Homo sapiens: one gene and its partner. The protein of the gene in region 1 purifies or fractionates together with the protein of each later gene. This does not show direct contact. Each region holds a gene or a part of one and is shown on either strand. Other genes may lie near its edges.

The links.
Region 2: the proteins of DENND1B (region 1) and SERPINA12 purify together in Homo sapiens (affinity purification with mass spectrometry; 3 studies listed by BioGRID and IntAct, with this or other methods). This does not show direct contact.

What each region holds. Positions count from the first base shown.
Region 1 is NC_000001.11:197,765,065-197,773,109, reverse strand, and holds part of DENND1B (DENN domain-containing protein 1B), read left to right. Parts: intron 1-177; coding exon 178-242; intron 243-8,045. UniProt on the Homo sapiens protein: Guanine nucleotide exchange factor (GEF) for RAB35 that acts as a regulator of T-cell receptor (TCR) internalization in TH2 cells. Acts by promoting the exchange of GDP to GTP, converting inactive GDP-bound RAB35 into its active GTP-bound form.
Region 2 is NC_000014.9:94,506,470-94,513,507, forward strand, and holds the start of SERPINA12 (serpin A12 precursor), read right to left. Parts: upstream 3,001-7,038; 5' UTR 2,873-3,000; intron 1-2,872. UniProt on the Homo sapiens protein: Adipokine that modulates insulin action by specifically inhibiting its target protease KLK7 in white adipose tissues.

The sequences.
Region 1 (8,045 bases):
CTTTTAAGTTGCTCAATTGAGAAAACAGTTTCATTGTTATTTCTACTATACTGTAGTAATACAGTCACGTGAAATGTATTGAGACAAAAACAAGATTAGTTTTAGAATTAAGAAAATACAAGTTTCATGGAGATGTTTATTTGTCATAGGAAATTAATTTAAACTTTTTCCTTTTAGGGCAAATCCAGACAGAACCTTTGACTTGGTGTTGAAAGTGAAATGTCATGCCTCTGAAAATGAAGGTATGTGTCTTCTGTGTTCTGTTATTTGACAAGGTCTCTTTTTTTTGGGACAAGATCTCATTCTGTTCCTCAGGCTGTGCAGTGGCATGATCAGGGCTCACCACAACCTCTCCTTCCCGGGTTCAGGTGATCCTCCCACCTCAGCCTCCCGAGTAGCTGGAGCTACCAATGCACACCACCATGCTCAGCTAATTTTTGTATATTTTTTTGTGGAGACAGGGTTCACCACGTTGCCCAGGCTGGTCTTGAACTCCTGGGCTCAAGTGATCCACCCACCTTGCCCTCCCAAATTGTTGGGATTACAGGCGTGAGCCACTGTGCCTGGCCTGTTCTGTTAATTCTTAAAATAATTGATTGAATCTGTCAAAGCAAGTGTTAATATTGTGGACTGCTGGAACATGGTAGTAATAGGAAAATAATACTACTAAATGTGTATTCTGCATTGAGTGTCTCAAGTTGCTGGTAATAAAATAGGTGTTAAGTCTTTGCCCTGGGATTGTAAAAATCATGAATGTTATCAGTGCAGCTTGAATTTCAGGTGTGTTGTTAAGCCCATATAACTTACAACTCAGCTTCACCATTCGTTGGTAAAGTTATCATTAGTTTTGGTGAAAGGGCGAATCTTTTCATTTTCTTTCATTTATGTTTGGAAATTTAGTGTCTTTTTTTAAACATTAGTGCACATTCTCCTGCTAGTACCAATGGAAACTACACCACTTCCCTTCTGATGTTTCCAGAACGCAGAATGCAGACTGAGTAGCCCCTTCTGTTGGATTTACTCCAATAGCACAGCACTTTTGCAGGGAGGTAAACGATAGTGTGAAATTACTTGGAAGGGTTTCAGCTGTCAGTTCCGTACAATTTCCTGAAAAGATGAGAGCATAATACTTTAATGTCATGATTTTCATCATTTCCCTCCACTTTTGTCATATTGTGTATTGTGCATATGTGTGGTAGGCGGCAGGGTTAGCAGACAAGAATAAGGAATTCTTTTCTTGCCTATTTTCTTTTAATGTGTTCTTGCATGGTATGTCTTTCTAGATACTTAAAGTATATGTCTTTACTTGCTGTGTGCTTAGACCCTGGATAGCATGATGATTAAGCATAGGGGTTTCGTGGAGACTGATTGGCCATCCTAAAGCCTTGGAGGAAAGTCTGCTGACAATTTTAGCTTCAGAAACTATCCAGCAATTACCTACTCTTAAGTAATTTGGAGCTGCACACCTTAAAATAGAGAAGCCCAACCCAGTTGTGGTGAAATGGGCATGGCTAATTTTAGTATGAAGTCACATATTGTTGGCTCCACCAGCCCTACTACTGTACTCCTGGTCTATCTGAACTGCAGCTGTGGTCAGGTTTGTCTATTGGCAAGGAGTGATCCTAGGTTGTAGGGAGCCTTTTCTAGTTGATGAAGTTATCTTTTATTGTCCTGTATGTAGTAAAGTTTGTCCATTTGCATTATTTTGAGCCCCAACCGGGTCCTCTTTGAAGAATGGATATATTAGGTAGAATGGATACTCAAATGGATACATTATGTTTTCAGCTCCAATTTAATTCTATTCTATAGTGGTTTATGATATAAGTTAATCTAAAAAATATCTACCACAACATTACCGAAGGTGCGTGAAGTAACGCTCATCTGATATTGCTTGTAAAGGCGTGGCACGGTGGCTCACGCCTATAATCCCAGCACTTTTGGAGGCCGAGGTGGACAGATCATCTGAGGCCAGGAGTTCGAGACCAGCCTGACCAATATGGTGAAACCCCATCTCTACTAAAAATACCAAAATTATGCAGGCATGGTGGCCTATGCCTGTGATCCCAGCTACTGGGGAGGCTGAGGCACGAGAATCAGTTGAACTGGGGTTGTGGAGGTTGCAGTGCGCCGAGATAGCACCACCACACTCCAGCCTTGGTGACCAAGTGAGACTCTGTCTCAAAAAAAAAAAAAAATCTATATAGATATATAGATATATTTATAGATACATATATTTATAGATATATATTTATAGATATATATTTATATATATTTATAGATATATATTTACATATATATTTATATATATATTTATAGATATATATTTATATATTTATAGATATATATTTATATATATTTATAGATATATATATTTATATATATTTATAGATATATATTTATATATTTATAGATATATATTTATAGATATGTATATTTATAGATATATATTTATAGATATATATTTATAGATATATATTTTTATATATATTTATAGATATATATACACACACACACACACAACAGGCTAATTTCACTTGGAAAATATGGATTCTCTAATTTTAAATGTGTATTAAAGTGATCTTGTTAAAAGATCAATTTGCCTTATATAACACCCAATCTATGCATGTGTCAGAGAGATTGTGGTCTTCTTATAAAGGCTTTTGAGTGGTTTACTCCCTTCTTCCTCTTTTTGCTCTTTTCCACTTTTCATGAGCTAGTTATTCCAGTTTGTATCTTCTACTTCTGCCCTGCTTTAATATTACACCTTGTCTTTTTGCTGTTGTTATTTAAATCACTACTTTTTAGAAACATCTTCATTTGTATTTTAACAGTTTATATCTAGCCTGGTAAAGTTGTAAATATGATAAATGGTTAAAGTAAATAATGTTGGCTTCTTTGTAGGTTGCAAATAATCCATTCTATATGGCTAAATGGCAGAAAATTCTAAAGATATTTTAAAAAACTAAACTCAGCCATGTAAGCAGCAGTAACCTTTCTTCTTTTATTATGACTTAAATAGTATGAATATGGCTAATATTTTAGGATCTAACAAGTAATAACTATAATCAGTAACTATAATAAATAACAAATGATAAATTAGTAGCTATAAATAATAAAATCAATAACTATAAGAGGGCTATAAAAGTAAATTTTTTTGCCAAATTGAGAGATTTATGTTTCTGTAATATTTTATCAATGTTCTACTTTACAGCTAAATCTTAAATAGAAAAATATATGAAAAATATTTTAAAAGTTATTGGAATCCTCATATTTAACTGTTAGTACCTATTTGTTTTAATGAGGCTCTGATATGTGCATTATCAGCTTGTTTAAGGTACGATAATTTTTTTTTTGCTAACATTAAATGATCATGGGTGAAATTCTTAAATAGTAATAGATTGGAAAACAAAATGTATAAATTAGGATGCTTTGGAGTACAAACATAAGATTGGTTTAAATAATAGAGAAACTAGAGAAACTTGATATAGTTCATACAAGAAGTCGTCAAACATCGATATAGTTCATACAAGAAGTCGTCAAACATCCAGGTGCTTTCTGCTTCTCATTTCTGCCACTCACAGTAATGGTGTCATTGGAGGGCTTAGATTTCTTGCGGTTATAAGACTGTCAGTGGAAGTTGGAACTCTGCTTTTTTGTTTGTGACTCTGGGGGTGACAGACACTGGCTTTACATGTCTCTATTTAGAGCCAGAAAGTTTCTTTTTTCAAATCCCCTAGAAAGCCTTTCCTTAGATCCTGGTAGCCTAAGTTGGCATGCACCTGACCACTCCTGAAATTATCATTGGTGGGGTAGAGGTAAAGGGGTTGGTGGCAAGACTATTGTGATTGATTTATTTAAATTGGCAATGAATAGATGTTGAGAAATCAATTAAAATGCTTTTGTTAAAGAACTTTTAGAATATATAATTTTTTGTTGACTGATCAAATAGAAAATGTATTTAGAGTAAATTTGGTTTATACTAAGATTGGTGACATTATGTTAAGGTATTTGGCATGCTTCTCTTGTTCATTTTTCATAGGTAAGTCTAAATGTTTTCATTTATCCTGAATAGCTTAGATAAGTATCTTCAGAGACAGGTTGTTAATTAAATTTTAGTTAACAGTGTGAAATGACATTAGCTTTTAAAATATAACTTGATAAAGCTCCTCTGGTAAGATTGTGATCTTTATCTGGTCTACTGCTATTTGGACTTGTTTCAGAGGCATTATATTGATTTTTTTTTTTTTGAGAACAACACATTTCAGAACATTCTGGAAAATAGCTTGTTAGTTTCATATGGAGTGCTCTACAAATCTAAAAAAATGCCATAAGAGGGGTTGGTAGTATTTCCCTATAGTGTCCCCTATGTGTTAGTAGAATTTGTTCTGGTGGTGTCTGACAGATTAGTTGTGGCATTTTTTTTTTTAATGGAGGTTTCCCTGGCAGAACAACCTCCCAGTAACTTCTGCTCCAGCTGTCCAAAAGTGAAGTGCCAAAATTTAGATCTTAATGCTCTTCCTGGTAGATCTCCAAGATAATTGCTAGTGTTCTTATTCTTTTTGTTGTCTGTCTTCCTTTTAGCAGGCAGGGAAGTACAGCCAGCAGTGATGGCCTCTCCTCAATTCTGTTAACAGAAGTCATTGTTACCATACTGTCCCCACCTTCCCCAAAGTGACTTAAGACTTCAGGGAAATGAAAAGTAACTTTTCGTCAATAAAAGATTGGGTATGCCTCTAAGCATTTCTCTTCTGGGAAGTGGCCTTGGTACTCTAGCTTTCTCTTTTTTAATTTTGTTGATAGTTTATTCCAAGTAGTAATAGTAGCAGTAGTAGTAGGAGGAGGAGGAGGAGGAGGAAAGGGAGGAGGAGGAGGAAGAGAAGGAGGAGGAGGAGCAGGAGGAAGAGGAGGAGGAGAAGGAGGAGGACGAGGAGGAGGACGACGAAGAGGAGGAGGAGGAAAAGGAGGTGGAGGAGCAGCAGCAGCAGCTGCAGCAGCTAATATGTTGTACTTATTCTGTGCTGGGCAAAATTCTGGATATTTTTCATGTACTATTTAAGCCTCACAAAAATCTTATGATATAGGAAATGCTTGTTTCCATTTGGCACATGAAGAAACTGAAGAACAGAGAAATGATGAAACTTGCGCAGGGTAGTCTGTCCAGAGTCTGTATTTTAACTACTGCTGTGTTGCCTCCCATTGCATAGTGACTTCACGTGTATAGGTGGTTTTATCATGCGAGGAAATATTTGAGTATAAACTGTATGTGGTACAAATCATTTTTTCCAAATGGGAATACAGTGTGTTCCCTAAAATTAATGAATCCAATATAATTCCACCTAAAACAATTACTGAGTTTTTTCTTTGTGGTTGCAGAGCCTAACTCATCCCATTTCCCTCCCTGTCACTTTTCATTTTTAGGATTTGCATCTTCATATTTAGTGAATCTTTGATCTAATAGTTCTGGCTATTTAATAGTAGTTTTAAAACATCTTTAGCACGTCTTGTTTTCTTTATTCCTTTCTTTTTACCTAGAACAGTTTCTCTTAGGAACAAATTCTTCTTTGCTACCAGCTTTCTACTTTGATCTGCCTATCCAACCCAGTCTCAAATTATCAATTTTTCTTATCTGCAACTTATGTTAACAGTTTAACTGCCTTTCACTTTTTTGTTAAATTAGAGCCTTAAGCCAAAGAATTCTTAGTGTCCTCCATGCCCTGCACAAGAAAGGTATCTCTAAACTTACTTTTTGCATTTGATAACTTTTTGTCTATAGTGATACTATCTACACTAGACTCTACAACATTTTGCTTCTGCTTGGTATTTTAGCACTTATTGTACTATTATAGATATGTTTAATATGGTCATTTAGAGAAATACTGATGTGTCTAAATGTATGTTTGCCCTGCTTGAGGTAAGTTCTTCATGAACCAGAACTTATTAATTTGTATTCTTAAGAAAAAACTTAACACATCTGACATGTTTAATGAATATTTACAGAATGAATAAAAGAAACTGGGGCTGGGTGCAGTGGCTCACACCTGTAATTCCAGCACTTTGGGAGGCAGAGGCAGGTAGATCATTTGAGGTCAGGAGTTTGAGACCAGCCTGGCCAACATAGTGAATCCCTGTCTCTACTAAAAATACAAAATTTAGCGGGGTGTGGTGTCAAGAGCCTGTAGTCCCAACTACTTGAGAGGCTGAGGCAGGAGAATCACTTGAACCCAGGAGGCGGAGAGAGATTGCAGTGAGCTGAGATTGTGTCACTGCATTCCAGTCTAGGTGACAGAGGGAGACTCTATCTCTAAAAAATAAAAAATAAAAATAAATTGGATCTAGCTTAATGCTTGGCCATTGAATAAATGAATGTTGATTACATTAATCCACAGAGAGCTGCTTGTAGAAATGATTTTAAATGTGTGCTGGTATGACAGTACAGGGGCATTAGAAATAGAAGTCCATATATGTCTTGGAATGGGCTGTTTTGGAATACCCCATCCTCAAACTCTTTTCATTCAGTGCTTATGTCTCCTTTCCTCTCTTCATAGCAAAATATTTATAAGAACAGTTGCTATATATGTTTGTGAATTTACCTTAAAACTCATCTATAACCATTCATACATACTAAAACCCAACAAAACTCTAACATTTGGAAAATAGAACCTTGAGGAATCATACAGATAATAAAGTAGTTTAGGAGGTATTGCATTATTGTCCAACATGGAAAAAGTCTGAGTAAAATGTGGTTACCATGATAGTTGTTTTTGCTGTAACTTTGTGTTCATTTAAGAACTCTGAGTCTCTCAATTCAGATGCACTAGGATAAATTAGAGTAATGCAAACTGTATAAGCTAAATTGTTGAAGAAAATGAAACTGTGACCAGGCATGGTGGCTGATACCTGTAATCCCAACATTTTGGGAGGAAGAGGTGGGAGAATCCCTTGAGGTCAGAAGATCAAGACCAGGCTGGGCAACATAGCGAGGCTCCCATCTCTATTAAAAAATAAAATAAAATGAAACTGTTTTTTCTTTTGCACTGCTAGCCAGGAACAAAATGTAATGTGATTCTTCAGAACCATGTCCTTGGGTTATGCCCTTCTTGATTTATATAGAAAATAGTTGAGAATATATGTACTTTTATATGTGGCTTGGTGCATTACATCCTCCTTCACATAGCTGCCTGCAAGTGTAAAAAGCAAATCAAATTTCACTGTTCAGTATTTGTTGATTATTACTTTCATAGGTGTGTTGCAAATTTTACATTTTAATAGTTTGGTTATCACTTTCTCATTAGGTGCTTTCATTTGTTTACATGTTCTTTATTTTTGCCGCTTTAATCTAAGGTGACCTCTTGGTTTTTGATGTTCATGATTTCCACTGTAAAATGTCAGAGGCTGCTTGGCCTCTGCTGCAGATTTCACAGTGGTATGCTTTAAGACTGTTGTTTTGTCACTGCTGTGTTGCCACAGTGCAAGTTTGTTCAGGTTTTTTCTTATAACTTTGTTTTCTTGACTTTCAAGGTGATATGTTCCTGATGTGCTTTTGATAATATTCTCTCATTTTCAGATTTTTCTTAGGCTCAGATAATATATTCTTTTTCTCTAAATTTTCATGTTTTATTTGCAAGTTAGGGGATAATAATTTACTGTGTACAGTATACATTTTAAAGTGTTCATATAATACTAGCAATAGACATGTTTAGAGTGCTTTACGCAGATGGCCATGGTACTTCAGATAACAATGAGAATATCACATTTGAGCTCTTGGATTTTTAATCATTTCCAAAATAATACTTCTTCCTTGGAAATAAGCTTAATGTTTAACATTGAAAAACTTTTCCCACTTTCAAACTCTTGATTTATCTCAAGTAGTAATTTAATTTTATCTATAGAAAGTAATGTCTTGGTTCACGTTTCTGTGATAGGTCAGTCACTGGCCTTGTGGGGGAACTTGCTAAAAGGTGATCCTGACTTGACCTTTTAAAAGTATTTATTTAGGAGACTGTGGTACTAATTCTTATGACACTGAATAAGAGAAGAGTAGAATA
Region 2 (7,038 bases), on another chromosome or scaffold:
GATGGGGCACTCTTAAGCTGGGTTTTGAAGGATAAGTAGGTGTTCTCTAGGAGAAAACTGAGAGCAAGAGAAGTATATCAAGGATTTTGCATCCTGGAGAAAGTGAGTGAACAATCTAATGCCTCCAGAAATTGTATATGTGACTTTGGGCTTCTGGTTCTTTAATTGCAAAATGGGAATAACCTATTTCTAAAGCAGTTGTTTCCATCCTGGGAGTGCATTACAATCATCCAGGAGCTTTAGAAATACCTATTTTCAGAACATTCCTCTAGAGATTTTGAGTTAGTTGATGCAGGATAAATCCTGGGTGAGGGTGCCTTTAAGAACTTCTCTCCAGGGGATTTAATGAGTACTCAAGGTTGAGAATCCCACTCCAAAGCAAGTGATTCCCACCTGATGATTCCCAGGTCTTTTAAAGCATTCAGCCACCAGGTATCAAGATGGCTGTAAAGCCACAGTATTAAGGTATTGGAACAGAGACAGACAAGCTGACCAATGGAACAGACTAGAGAATCCAACAGAGCCACACAGGAAGTCACCTGATATGTGACAAGGGCATCGCTACAGTTCAAAGGAAAGGATGATCCTTTCAATGAATGATGAAAACAACAACAACAACAACAAAACACCAGTGGATGTCCATACAGGAAAAATATAAATAGTGACTATTTTACTCAACATACAAAAATTAATTTGAGAAGTCACAGACCTAAATGTGAAAGGTATTAGATTGGACTATATGAAACTATTGGTCTTTAATATTTTTTAACCTCAAAACCCACAAGAATCAAAATGATAAAGCTTCTAGAAGAAAATATATTAATAGTAGACAATCTTTGTGACCATGAGATAGGCAGAAAGTATTAACCATTTTTACAAAATGATAAATGGAACTTCATTAACATTAAGAGCCTTGTTCCTCTAAAATTACCTAGGACAGTACAAAGGCAAGTCACAAGCTGGGAGTGGTACGTGTAATGTCTGTGTCTGATAAAAGGCTCATGCCTGTTTTTAAGCACTTCTACAAATCGACTGAAAAAAGACAACAACTTAAAAACTAAGCAAAGACATGAACAAATACTTCACAAAAGAAGATATCCAAATGGCCAATAAGCAGCTGAAAAGGTGCTCGACATCATTAATCATCAGAAACATGCAAAACAAAACTACAAGAAGAACTCACTACACACCCACTAGAATAGCTCAGATTAAAAGGACCAGCCACACGAGGACGTGGAGCAAGTGGAACTCTCTTATATTGCGGGTGGGTGTGCAAACCGACACCAACGTGTTGATTGGAAAATTGCTTGGCAGGATCTATAAAAGGTAAACATATGCTTACCCTTTGACCCATTCATTGTACCTCAGGGTATATGCCCAACAGGAAATGAGTGCTTGTGGGTTTACCAAGACATGTACTGCAATGTCCATAGCAGCTTTATGTGATAGACCTAAAGTGGAAACAACCCAGATGTCCATTTATAGTAGAGAAGGGAGAGAGAGAAAGAGATTCCTGGCCACCATCCCAGATCATACTTTGCATTTCCCTGGGTGTCCCCACTCTTCTTTGGTTTCCACAGGATCCCCAGTTGATGCTTGTGACAGACAGCTATGGGAGCCAGTGACCAAGAGTGTGAAACACTGCAAAGCCCAAATCCCACTAGAACAAATTATACTGTACCTCCAAGCAATAAGGCAAAGACTGAGTAAATGCAATGTATTTTCAGTCATTGAATTCAACTCCAATTGGGGAGCTTAATCAATAAATGATTTAAAATTAATAATAATTGATTTTGAAAGAAAATATTTTTAAGCAATCTCCGGTAAGATCCTAGGTTACCCTAAAAAGCTTCTAGTACAAAATGTTGAAAATCTTTCCACACAAAAATCTAAACAAGTAAGAAATAAAAGGAGAGAAATAGAAAATTTAGAAAATTTTTTTTTAATGGGAAGCATTCTGTAAATAGTAAAAAATTCAAGATGGCATTTCAGAACATTCGAGAAAAGGTGAACAATTCCATAAATGCTATTAGGAAACAAACAAATCATTTCAAAAATAAAATTACAAGTGTTGGAATAAAACCTTTTCATAATGTTAGAGTGAAAAAGAACTTCCTAAGTGTGATACACAAGCCAGAAACCATGTAGGAAAAGATGGCATATATGGATATACCATCTTTTTGCAACGTGTTAAAACTCTACAGAATATGTAAAATTTGGAATCACAAATTGGAACATGTGTACAAGATAGAGAGCTAATGTTCTTAACAATTAAGAGTTCTTATATATATCAATAAGTAACCACATGTGTTTCTCAATCAGCAAAAAGTAAAAAATTTGGGTAAATATGCATTGAAACATTGTGGGTGGGGGCCAGCTTTGATTTTCCTCATCTTATTTTCTTCTTTGTCTTTGTCTCTGCAGAACAGGGTACTTCCATGCACATATTAGTAGATACGGTTATTCATAGACATTATGTATTTTTCATACCAACTTTGCAAGTTTGGGTGCTGCTAGACCCATTTTTACACATGAGAAATCTGAGTTTCCTATAGCTGCACAGTTAGCAGATTCAGGACTCAAAAATCAGGTCTTCTGGTTCTGAATCCCTTTTTCCATGGATAGCTTTCTGGTAGACCATAAATGAAAGCATGGCCACAGCATCTTGGCAGCCAGCACAGACCCATGGAACTCTTGGCCAGACTGGTGATCCAGCCCTAGGGCTAGGCATGAGAAGGACGCAGAATGTCTGTCTATTTGAGTGATCACCTTGGCCCTTGGTTGTCTTCTCTAAGACAGAGAAACAGACAACACACACACACACACACACACACACACACACACACACACACACACTGCCCCTTGGACTAACCTCACCTCCCCAGTTTCTCCTTTCCCCTCAGGTCAGTCTTCCTTGGCCTTCCCCAGTTGTTGCTGATCCCAGCCTCCTAGTCCTTTTTCGGTCCTGGTCCTGCAGCCTTCAGGTTCCAGGTATGTTCCTCTAGGCTCCCAGCCCCACAAGCCTTATCTACAAACTGGGTGGACTTCTGCCCAACGACCTACTAAGCCTGCCTCTGCCACCTCCACCCCTTTCCCAGGATCAGCCTGGCCAACTGGCCCTGCCAAGTGTCTCACTCAGAGAGCAATGCGTCTGGGAGTTCCCTTCCTCACCCCTTGGGAAAGATCAGGCCTACTTTTTCTCTCCCATCCCAAATAGCAAGGGGCACTGTGCTAGGTACACCCAAGGTGCTCTGTAGATTCACTGATGAGGGCCTGGCTTGCTAGGACCTGAGTGTTTGGCACCCAGTAAACCTCATAAAAGTGAGTGCACCAGAAACCAGAGTGACACACGCCATCCCCTCCCAGCTCCACAGCCCTGATCCCTGTGATCATCTTTGAGCAGAATCGTCCACCCCAGATTCCTTCCCTGGGACAGGACAGGAATGGGTGTGGGCACCCTGGCACTGCTATAGAATACCAGCCGCCTGGCACAGATGTTCACATGGCCCTCTCTCACCTCCCAGGTGCAGCCTGGGAGCAGGCAGCCCATCCATCCAACCCCACCCCACTCCCGAGCTCTGGGACGTCTCAGGGCCTGGGCCTGTGGTCTGGGTACCAGACATAGGTGACTCATAATGCACCTGGTGGCTGGAGAAGCCATCCCTTCCTCTGGTTCTCAGTGTACTCACCTGTACAATGGGCAATAGGAGACTGCATTGGATCTGTGGTTGCCTGAGAGAGCCAAACTATTGGAAGTCATGCTGTCAATCAATTTCACTTAAAATAATATAGACCCAAGTCCGTGCTAAATGTCATTCAAGCCAGATCTAGATGCTGGTAGAAGAGCAGAACAACAGAGGATATAAAAAAAGAGCATTTGCTCAACATTACTAACCATCAGGGAAATGTAAATGAAAACCACAATGAGATACCACCTTACTCTTACAAGATGGCCATAATTAAAAAGTAAAAAATAAAAATAAAAAAAATAGATGTTGGCATGAATGTGGTGAAAGGGAACACTTTTACACTGCTGGTGGGAATGTAAATTACTACAACCCCTATGGAAAACAGTATGGAGATTCCTTAAGGAACTAAAAGGAGAGCTACCATTTCATCCAGCAATCCCACTACTGGGTATCTACCCAGAGGAAAAGAAATCATTATATGAAAAAGACACATGCACACACATGTTGCGTAATTTCAAAGATATGGAACCAACCTAAGTGCCCATCAAACAATAAATCCATAAAGAAAATGTGGTATATACACACCATGGAATACCACTCAGCCATAAAAAGGAATGAAATAATGTCCTTTACAGCAATTTGGATGGAGGTGGAGGCCATTATTCTAACTAAAGTAACTCGGGAATGGAAAACCAAATATTGCATGTTCTTGCCCATAAGTGGGAGCTAAGCTGTGAGCACAGGTATAAGAATGATATAATGGACTTTGGGGACTCAGGGAAGAAGGTTGGGAGGGGGTGGTGAGGTATAAAAAACTACATATTGGGTACAGTGTACACTGTTCAGGTGATGGGTGCACTAAAACTCAGAAATCACCGCTAAATAACTTAATCCAAGTAACCAAAAACCACCTGTACCCCAAAAACTCTTGAAATTTAAAAAGAGCATTTCAGAAAAATATTTATGGAAGGAAAATCGCAAACTGCAAAAAAGCCCATAATTTAATGTTTTTCTGCATTTTCAGGTAGCCCACCAATTTGATTTCAGCAGCATGTGTACTTCTGTGCACACCTCATGTACACACACACACACACACATATATATATACACACACACATTTAATTCTTACAAGTCTGTGAGGGACCATTGTCACACTATACAGATGAGAAAGCTGAGGTTTGGGATAGTGAGTCATCTGTCAAATGTCACACGGTTATTTAATGGATGTGCAGCTTCATAAGAATTTCTTAATATAAAAGCAGAAAAAAAATATGTGGATACAACTAGTGCAGAAACTTTGGGAGAAATCAAGGAAATTCTGGAACTGTCTGCATGCCTCACATAAGGCTGCGGCTGTTAAATGCTGGCTCCTGGGATGGCTCACTCTAGTATTTGTCGGGTTGGTTCGTGCAGCCCAGAACAGGAACCGACACCACCTTCAGTTTTCCATCTCTGAGCCATTCGACTTCTCCTTTGGAAGGTGTCCCACCCACCTCTCTCACCTGCCTTTCCCTCATCCTCCTTTCCTGCTTCCTTCCAAAGAGGCAGAACTTGAGTTGAAAAGCAGATTGAATGTCTATAATGTACCAGGCAGCAAGCCAGGTGTGGGGGAGAGAGAAATAACACAAGTCCTCATAAGCTCACAGACCAGGGAAGGGACAGACACTGGGGGGTCACGCCTGTACTCCTAGCACTTTGGGAGGCCAAGGCAGGTGGATTGCTTGAGGTCAGGAGTTTGAGACCAGCCTGGCCAATATGGTAAAACCCCATCTCTATTAAAAATACAAAAATTAGCTGGGAGTGGTGTCTCGCACCAGTGGTCCCAGCTACTCGGGAGGCTGAGGCATGAGAATTGCTTGAGCCCAGGAGGCAGAGGTTGCAGTGAGCTGAGATTGCACCACTGCACTTCAGCCTGGGTGACAGTGATACTCCATCTCAAAAACAAAACAAAACAAAACAAGAGTTCTGTGGAGGGGTGAGTTCAACACCACTTGCACCCACGAGAGGCAGATATTGAATCAAATCAAGGCCTCCAAACAAAAAAAGCCGCAGCTCCATCCCCCACCCACTCACGTGTCCCCTCTCAGGGGGCATTGTGACATTGAGGCGGAGCACAGGTCCTACAGCCACAGCAAGCTGGGCCACCTCACCCAGGTCACCTCACTTCTCTGTGCCTCAGTATTTCCATCTGCCCAATGGGACTACTGAAGTACCTGCTTTGTTCATTTCATCAGATTGTTAGCAGTGCTATCAAATGCAAAGGCCCATGTGGAGAGGATCAATTAAAACTAATTAGTAGTAATCATAGCAATAGTTATAATAGTTGTTAATAAAATAGTAATTAATTACTATTAATGGGCATTACTAATGATAAACATGATGACAGGGAGCTGATTCTGTTCATCCAAGTCACACTCTGCTCACCATTCTCATCCTCCAGCATCAAGAGTGAGGGTGTTGTGTGCCTAACACTGCTGGAGCCCAGGAGGACAATTCTTGCCTCTCAAATGAAACATGTGTTATCAAGAATGGATCAGACAGCAAAAATCAAATGTTAAGGATGGCTGAGATCCTTGAAATTCAGGAGGAATTTGGATGGGTAGTCAGTAGTTACCCAAATAGGGTTATCTGTTCACATCTAACTACTGACTATTTTGTGTGCTATTATATAGTTAAGGATGGGAAAAGCTCATTTCTGAGCTTTCAGAAATTTGGGAAAACAGAGTGGTTGTCTACTTAAGACCAAGGAAAGGGCCAAGTCACAGAGAAGACGTAGTGAAGAAATACGCAAGCCCACACATCTATTCTCCAAGAATGTTCCACACATTCCCCAGTGGGTTCTATTACCAGCTCAAGCCACTAGCATAAGAATGAGGAGTGATACCGAGGGTAGCTCTGGAAGCAGCCATCCCACGGCTCACCATGCAGGTGGAAGAAGGGAAGTTTCCCTTCAGTCATCCAGGTTTTCAGTTTTCCTTCCAGGATAAGCGAAAGCAGGCTGATAGAAACCAAGTGTGGGCTGGTAAGCAGGTCACCCTTATCTGCAAGGGCATACTCTGAGTTGCCACGGCTTGTTTGCTGATACCAGACAGTCCTCTTACAGAGAACTGCCTTTATAATCCAAGACAAAATGAAGGACAATTACTTTCAGAGAGAGAATACAAAGATGCAAATGGCTGATATCAGATATCTCTAAGCAGTACAAACCAAGAAACAGTAGAGACTCAAGAATCTGAAGCAGAGCGGGAGGACCTGAGAGCGGGAAAAGACTATAGAGAATTCTATGTAGAGACAGAAAATCTGGATTCAGGCTCCATGGCTGCTGTTTCCCAGCCGTGCAACCCTCCTC